Linked DNA regions of Homo sapiens: region 1 is linked to region 2. Evidence: fine-mapped expression QTL. A gene starts in region 2. The other region holds a variant in brackets. All regions are shown on one strand. Distances are between the middles of the regions.

The links. PIP is the estimated chance that this variant, and not a neighbour inherited with it, causes the effect.
Region 1: its variant is fine-mapped to the expression of CAPN5 in whole blood (INTERVAL, PIP above 0.99).

What each region holds. Positions count from the first base shown.
Region 1 is chr11:77,117,637-77,122,018 of GRCh38, reverse strand. CAPN5 (calpain 5) reads right to left here. Exons shown (of 13, transcript NM_004055.5): 8 at 3,667-3,862; 9 at 2,867-2,989; 10 at 1,110-1,306; 11 at 1-85. Among named protein-coding and RNA genes, the nearest start is that of MYO7A, 8.4 kb to the left of the region's middle. The variant T/C (reference allele first, on the strand shown) is at 2,273.
Region 2 is chr11:77,064,687-77,069,068 of GRCh38, reverse strand. CAPN5 (calpain 5) reads right to left here and starts at 2,098. Exons shown (of 13, transcript NM_004055.5): 1 at 1,975-2,098. RefSeq lists a silencer at 1,893-2,582 and an enhancer at 2,439-2,939.

The sequences.
Region 1 (4,382 bases), 53 kb before region 2:
CAGGACATGTACCTGGGTCACCAGCTGGGGGTAGCCACAGAGGGAGCTCCAGCAGGTGTGTGGGGGCTCATCCAGGCGCAGCTCCCTGATATGGGGCGGCAGGGGAGAGGGGAGTGATGGAGAAGGGCCAGGAAGACAGGGGTGAAGAGGGGGTTCAGGAAGTGGGAAGGGAAGAGAAGCAGTATTTAGCCCAAACTTGATTTCATTTAGTCCTGAGCAAATCCCCATGGGCAGTCCCCAGCTCCAAGCCCTGTGGGCTTCCTGCCTTCTCTATCCCTATCAAGGGTACCCCATCCTTCCCCAGGGGAAAGGCACCTTACTGAGCACCTGCTGTGTGCCAAGCCCCCTGCTGGCGTTATGGGTGATTCCTAATCCCTGCAAAGCCCCGCAAAGGCTATTATGGTGCCCATGTCACAGCTGAGGAAGCAGCAGGCTCACCCAGGTGAAGGGCTTGCCCAAACAGCTGGAAAGCTGGGGAGCCTGGGCCGGCAGGACCCTGAGCCGTCTGACTCCACATGCCACAAGCTGCCTCCTGGCTCTGGCACGTGGGCAGAGCTCACCTGTCCTTCAGGGGACACCGAGCCTGGGCTGTGTATCACAGTGGAGGGCAGTGCGGGACGCACAGGGTCTATGCCCCAGCAAGGACTGAGAGAGCTTCAGCAGTCCACTGGAGCCCAGAGCCACCCCCATGGGACAGGAAATTGTGGTGACAAGACCCAACCCTGGAACCAGGCAGGCTGGGTGGCCCAGCCCATCTCCACCGCTGGCTGCATGACCTCAGACAACCCTTCTAACCTCGGCCCCTGAATCTCACTGGTAAAGTGCGGGAGTCAGGCCTCCCACTCAGGGATGCAGGAAGATCAAGATGAGTGAAAGCTTCTTTGTCAACTGTAGAGTGCAGTGCACATACAAGAAGCTGTTCCTAGTCATGGCCAGGGATGCTGGGACAGGGGAACAAGGGAAGAGAAGGGAAGGAGATGGGCACTGGTATCAGCCCAGAGTGGCTGGAGGCCCAGAGACACTGAGCATCTCTGAGGCTGCAGGTTCCTGGTTGGCCCAGTGTGAATGTCACTCCCACCCACACTGGCCTCAAGCCAGCCCCCAAGTACCGGCAGTTGGAGGGCACATCAGTGAAGACTCGGAGCAGGAACTCGCCAGTGTGGCCTGGCTCGAAGGTTGTGGGGATGATGACATAGCGGCCCTCGGGCTGGTCGGTGCGCAGGAAGACGCTGCGTGAGTTGATGTAGATGGAGCTGGCGGCCTTGTGCTGCAGGCTGTGCATGCGGTACTGGCGGTTCTCCTCCACCTGCAGGAGGCGGGAGGGGCTGGGCCACGCGGAGACACACCCTACAACACCCTGGCCCACCCCGCCTCCCCCTCACCACCATGGAAGGGACGATGGAATCCCTTTATATGAAATGTCCGGAACAGGCAAATCTATAATAACAGAAGCGGATTCGTGTTTGCCCAGGGCTGAAGGGAAGAGGTCAATGGGAATGGGTGGTGGTGGTTAAAGGGAGTGGGTTTCTTTTGGGGAGATGAAAATGTTCTACAGTTGATTGTGGTGATGGTTGCATAAACTCTGATCACACAAAAGTCATTAGATTGTATACTTTACATGGCTGAATTGCATGCTCTGTGAATTATATCTCAATAAAAACTATTAAAGGAGGCTGGGCGCAGTGGCTCATGCCTGTAATCCCAGCGCTTTGGGAGGCCAAGGTGGGAGGAACACTTGAAGCTGGACGTTCAAGGTCAGCATGGGCAACAAAGCGAGACCCCAGCTCTACAAAAAACTTAAAAATTAGCCAGGCATGGTGGTGTTCACCTATAGTCCCAACTACTAGGGAGACTGAGGTGGGAGGATCGTTTGAGTCCAGGAGTTTGAGACTGTAATGAGCTATGACAGCACCACTGCCCTCTGGTCTGGGTTACAGAGCAAGACCCTCTGTAAAACAAACAAACAAAAAAAATAGAGGGCAATAGGAATCCCCCTGGTAACAATGTCAGTGGGGTTTCTGACTCCAACAGCACAACCAAGTATCAGGATCTGCAGAGGTCACAGCACCTGTCCACGAAATGCCATCACCAGCTGCCAGGACCTGCCTGACAATCCTGAAAAAAGTGTTCTGGTCACACTAGTGAAGATCGTCACATGGCAAAGTCACAACAATATGTCACAAGACACTAGCATGCAATGAATGTACCAGCACAAGAGTATAAACAAAGTGCCACGGCGTGGCCAGGCACATCAGATGCCAAGGACTCAGCA[T/C]GTACCCAGCCTCTGCAGGGCCCGGTGGCTTCATTCCGTTCTCAAGGTCTGACAGGCACATGGGGTCCCGCCATGCTGACTGTCACCACACACTGGGCATCACAACACGTGGAAGGCCTCAGGTTCCAGGCCAGGCGGTGCGGCCATAGGTGACCCCACCTGGCTATGCTCAAGGATGCCTCCTCCTGGTGCCCAGCAAGGCCTCCAATGCAGGAAGGCTAAGGGGCTGCAAGGGGCCCTGAGGCCTGAGGGAGGAGCAGTGGGGGCCCAGTAGATGCCCAGAGCCTCCCAGGGCCCGGCCCCAACCACCAGTAATCTTCCCCTTCCTCATCCACCAAACATCCCAGGCCTGTGGGTCTTAGGCAGAAAGAAATCAGGCTGAGAGCTCCCACAGAAGCCAAGGCTGGGCAGGCTGGGCCCTCTGTGAATATTCAAGTGGGGCCCATGCCACGGCATCCTCACAATGTCTGCCACGGCAGCCAGGGCAGCGGCAGTGACCAAGGTGTTCTAGAGCGTTCTTCCTCAGGCATGGGCAGTCCAAACTCCAGCTCCCTCCCTCTCCCCACCCACGGCAGGGGACCCGGCTGGCCTCACCTTGTAGATGTCAAAGCCAATGGCCAGGTTCTCACCCTTGCCCTCCCGGCGCGTAGACCGCTTTGGCCGCTGCTGGATGCAGATCAGGACTTCATCTTCTGGCTTCTTGACTTCGAAGATGTACTGCAGGTGTGGCCAAGGAGAGAGAGAGACACTGCAATGAGACCACACCAGGCATGGGCTGGCTGGCTCCCGGAAGCTCAGACTCCAGAGCCTGGACCAGTCACAGCACCTCTCTGCGCCTTGGTCCCTCTGCTGTGAGGTGGGCCTACCAATGCCTGCAATGGCTACCCTGCATGAAGGCTGGGGAAACTCAATGCCAGGGTGGCCACTCTGCACAGAGCCTGGCACACAGGTGGTGCTCAACAGAGGCACACCAAGCACCAGGGCTAAGCAGCGCCACGGGTCAGACTGAGGAGGCTGTGGGGAGAGGCCCCGTGGGGAAGCCCAGCCCAGCCAAGTTCCCAGAAGGGACAGAATTGTGCTGTTGTGGAAACAAGGGGCTGAGTCCCTGGCTCAGCCTCTAAGTGTCCCTGTAGCTCAGAACAAGACACCCAAATGTCCCTCAGAGCCGCGGTTTCCTCATTTTTACCATCTGCAGGTTAGATTGTGAGGCTGGGGGCTTCATGACCCCCAGATGGGACGGATGTGCCCATCTAACCCCCACTGTACAGACAGGTTTGCTGAGGCCCAAGGAAGGACAGGGATTACCCAAGGTCATGCAGGAGTCCCTGGCAGGACAGTGGCAAGGCACCCCGCAGCTGCTACAGGGCAGGGTGGGGGTTCCTGAGAACGCCCACCTGTGGGTTCTGGAAGAAGGTGTCCTTGTGGTTGATGCAGCCGCCACCGCGGTTCTGTCGCGGGTCCTCATGCAGCGTCCAGGCGCCATGCAGCCGGGCCTCCTCCCACGTCTTGTGGATGCTCAGGTGGGATGTGTTGATCACGCGGCACTTGATGATGTCCGTGAAGTACCGGCACACGTCCTCGAAGGTCATCCTGGATGTGGGGAGGGGCTGAGCAGGGTACCTCCCCCACACCTCCCCAGGCTCTTGGCCCCCCAGCCCAACAACCTAATATGTCCATATGGCCCAGAGGTGAGAGAACACAGCTGGCTTTGAGAGGGGAGCTAAGCCCACACAAGGGCACAGGCATGGCATTGCACAGACCCTTAACCTCTCTTTTGACCTGTTTCCTCACCTGTAAAATGAGGCTGAATCTAACAGCAGGTGCCCATCTCAGAGCTAGTGAAGGAATTAGGTAATGCAATCAAAGCAGGCAGTGCAACTTTCGGCTGACAGAGCACGCACTGGCAAACGCTGGCTGTTACTATTGTGAATGGTGTTAATAACTACTGTCTGCTGCCCTGTACAGTTTATAAAGCACATCTGCATCCAGGATCTTCCATGGCTGTTGAGAGGCCTGAGTAAGTGGATGGTGGGAACCCCATGGTGAGCCTGCTGCGGTGGCCAGGGTGTTGCTATGGTCACTGCACACTGTGAACGCCTCCAGGGAGCTG
Region 2 (4,382 bases):
CACTGAGGGCGCAGGAGGCCTCCTGTTTGGGGACCAGGACTCCAGGGCTGATCTGACAGCCTGCCAGGAAAGCAGGCGCAGAAGCAGACAGAGACAGTGCTGGCCTGGGAGCAGTGTCCCAGATGTCACCCACAAAAACCCACAGGCATCTCACAACCACCCTGTCCAACAGTCAACTTACTCCCAACCTGCTCCACCCCCAATGGTGGTCCCCATCTCACAGAGGCAGCCCCACCTACCTTCCCCCAGCACTGGGACCCTGTGTAGCCCCTTAGCCCCTGGGCACCTCCTGCCCCCAGCACCCCTGCTCTGGGAAACTTTATCAGGGTCCCTCCTCCCCTGCCAAGCCTAGCCCTGGGTGGGGAGCAGAGGAGAGCAGAAGGGAGGGCCCTCTCCCTGCTTTGGCCTCCTCCTTATAGCCCTCAGTGGAAGCCCACCCACTACTGCAGCCAAAGGTGGCCCTTCTTGGACACACATCTGACCTATCTAATCCGCAATCCACCCCACCAGCATTCATTTTCACACTGCCAGGCCTTTACTCATGCTGTTCCTTGGGGCTGCAATGACCTGCCTTTTCTTTTCTGCTTGGTGGATTTCAAGACCCAGCCCCAACGAATCTGCAAGTGAACTCATCCCCAGCTCCCGGGCACCCATCAGTCCCTGTCTTGTGCTCCCAGCACTGGGTACAACTCTGGACAGGGCCTTATCTGTGGACCCACTGCCTGTCTTGTCAGAAGAGAGGCTCCTCAGGGCAAAGACCCCGCCTGAGCACCTCTGTGTGCTGGCAACTAGCCTGACCTGGCCTGCAGCAGCAGCTGGGCCCACCATACCCTGCCCAGGAGGCAAAGGCAGCCACACCACCCCACCCCCAGACCCTGGGGACAGGAGCAAGGACCAGCCCGAGGACCCTGGGAGGTGTCAATCCTTGCAAAACACAGTGGTTCCCCCAGCAGGCCTCAGACTCATTGAGTTGGCTGAGCCTCACCCGTAAGCCCCTCTCTTCCAAGAAGTCTGCCCAGATCTCTCTTTCCCCTGAGTCCTGGGATAGTCGCCCTCAGTACTTTTCTCTCTAAACCACAGGTGTAGGGAGAAGATTCTGGGATGAGAGCCAGGCGGACCCGGGTTCAAATTCTGGCTCAGCAATCCTGAGAGGGCAGCTGACTTCGCTTCTCTGTGCCCCACTCTTCTGATCTGTATGGAACTTGGGGGTGAATCCCACCACATGAAATGACTGGGAGAGAGAACGTCGCACCTGTTAATGATCTTTTGTCCTATTTCGCCTCTGGTCCCCTAGGCCAGTCTTCCGAGACCCCCAACGCAAAGGAACAGAGGTGGGAACTCTGAGGTCTGAGAAACAAAGATCCATTCCCTCCCAGACCACTCCCCCACACTCCCGCAACACACACACACACACACACACACACACACACACACACGTGCGCCCGCCCTGCAGTCAAGGAGAAAAGCCCCCTTTCAACCTGGGGAGTAGTGCCAAGAAGCGGATAGGCTGGGGCAGTAGGAGCCTCGGCCCTGCCCCTTCCCCAGGCCTGGGTGGTGGAGCACCCAGAAGGGGTTGGTGGATTGCAGGGATGAAAGGGGGGTTAAGCAGGGAAGAGAAGGGGGGAACTGTAAGGAAGATGAGAGGAAGTGACAGTCTAGCCCCGGGTGTTAGGCGCTTCCAGCGCGTCCGCACTAGGAAAACGACTCGGAGACACCCAGAGGGAGGTGAAAAAAAGACTCCTCGCCGGGGGTGGGGGTGGGGACGAGCCGAGGGGGCCCAGGCGGATGCTCCAGGACCCCGCCCCCCAGCCAGCGCTCACTTCCTTTCCCCCCGGGCCCGCGGGAGGTGCAGCCCCCTCCACTGATTCGTGGTCCCGGAGCAATCACTGGCCCGCGCTGCACCCGCACACACCCCCCCGAAACACACACACACACACACACAGAAGCACACGCCTCCCTCCGCCCGCCTCCTACCGGCCGAGCCGCCGCGGGTCCAGCCGGGCTCCCGGGATGCAGGGCACGGCGCGGGCGCTGGAGCGGAGGCTGCAGCCGCCCGGCGCAGCAGCCTCGGGCTCTGGCCGGAGATCCAGCTGGGACTGGCCTGCGGCGGGGGCTGGCGCTCGCATTCCCCGGGTTCGGCCAGCTGGGCCCGGCTCCGCCCCGCCCCGCCCGCGGCCTCCGCCCATTTGCCCGTTGCGAGCCGGAGGCGTGGTCTCCCGTGGGGCGGGGTGGGCGGCCCGGTGGCCGGGTGCGCCCATGCGCACTGGTGCGGTGGGCGGCCGCTCAGAGGAGCGGTCTCATTCCAGCCCCTGTGTTGAACGCGGACTTGGGGCCCCTAGCGGCACCCACCGCCTCTACCGGCTCGGTCGGGCCCTCGTTCTCTCTCCTTCCCAGCCTATCTGTCTGCGGTTGGTGCGCATCCCCATGGGCAGCCTCCCAAGGGCTGGCTGCACCGTGAGGGATCGGGCCGGGGCTGGGGTTCAGCCCCCACAGGGCGGGCCGGGGCCGCGGCTGACTTGGGGCCGGCGTGTAGTACCGAGGACCCGCAAGGGCCAGGGTGCCTGCCAGAACCAGGACTTGGTGGGCGGCGCCCCTCCCTTTCCGGGCTCCACCTTCACATCCATCCCAAGTGTTCGGATGGAGAAGTGGGAGCCCAGGCCCCTGTGAGCAGCAGAGGGCCTCTGTCAGATGGGAAAACTGACCCCGGCCCGTGTTGAGGACTTAATCCCGTGCTGCCATGGGCTCCCGGGCTCGGGCTCATGTTTGACTCTCTGTCCGTGACTGGCTACCGGAATGCCCTGGGATGGCACGGAGCCTGCATTTCCTGATCTGTAAAACGGGGACTATAATCTCTACCCACCCCAGGCCGCTTGGGGAATCCGATAGAGAAGGTTTAGGAGTGACTAGTTCTTGCCTACAGTAGGAGCTCAGGGGTGCCACCACCCCCCGCCCTGAGGCAGCAGGACAGACGCCCATCTGATCTGATGAGCCCATCGGCCCACTCGCTGGTGGAGCGTCTCAGGCCCGTTCATTCTCCGCCTCCAATTTGTTTCGAAGTCTCAGTTAATGATTTCGTCAACCTCTTGTGTTACCGAAACAAACTTGGGTCCGCCCACCCAGTGCAGCAAAGCCAAACACTGACACCAGGATTTGCAGCGGCAGAAAGGGAGGCATTTATTGCAGGGTGCCAAGCAAGGAGAATAGGTCGGCTAATGCTTAAGACCCGTACTCCCCAATGGTTTACATGTAAGGCTTTTTAAAGGTGGGGAGACAGAGGTTATAGGCAAAGTCATAAATAAATACTCTGGAGCTATACATTGGCTTGGCCCAAAAAGGTGAGACATTTTGAGGCAGGGTCATAGGTGGATTCAGAGATTCTGTGATTTGCAATTGGCTTAGGAAGCAAGACTGTCTAAAAACCTGGGGTCCACAGATAGGAGAGTTAAGCATTGGCTTATGGGTGTGACTCTTTACAGAACCCTTGGGAAGAAATTTAAAGAACAGCCCTCAGTTTCCCCTTATCTGAGGCCTAAGTGACAGCTGTGAAAAACAATTCAGGGACATAGGTCAAGATGTTATCTTTAGTTTCTATAGGGAACCAGACATCTTGTGGCTCTAACTTATTTGGGTGGCCCTTGTTTGAAGCTTCAATTACCTTCTTGCTTGTCAAGGTGCTCATTTACTTCTCAAAGCTAGCTAGCTGCCTGAAATTCCCCCTGAAAAGACTCATGATTTTCCTTTATTTCCACTAAGAGGAGTCTCTGCCTCACCTCACTCTCAGTCACCTGGACTTCTCTAGCTTCTCCCCAACCTCCCTGCCTCTGTCCCAGGCCACCCAGATGCTTCTCCCTTAAGAGTAGCCCCAGCCCCCTCAGGAGCCTCCTATCCAACCAAAGAAGACTTTCACATATGCAGCTGAGACCCGCCACCCATAGAAGAGTGTTCTAAGACTGCACCCCATCTGACTCCCCCATCTCCCCTAACCTTATTCCATGCCCTGTACTGGGAGCAGCAGCTTCACCAGCCCTTCAAAAGTCACTTCAGGGGCTCTACTCTCCCCACCTGAAACCATGCCCGTGCTGATCTGTGGCCGTCTGAAGGACTCTTCCTTCCTCCCTGTGCTGCAGCATCCCAAAGCTCCCTTGCTCAGCATCCACCCCTCACCTATGGCCCTTCTCAGGCTGCGTCTCTCAGAGTTGCTGGTGGGGCCAAGGTTTCCCCTGCAAGGCCAAAGTTCCTGGAGGGCAGAGGCCAAGGGTCATTGTCAGGAAGACAGCAGCACTTGGTAGAGCCAAGTAGATCTGGGCTCCAGTCCTCACTCTGCCAGTTACTGGCTGTGTGATCTGGGCAGGTCCTCTATCCTTTTCCCTGTCTGTAAAATG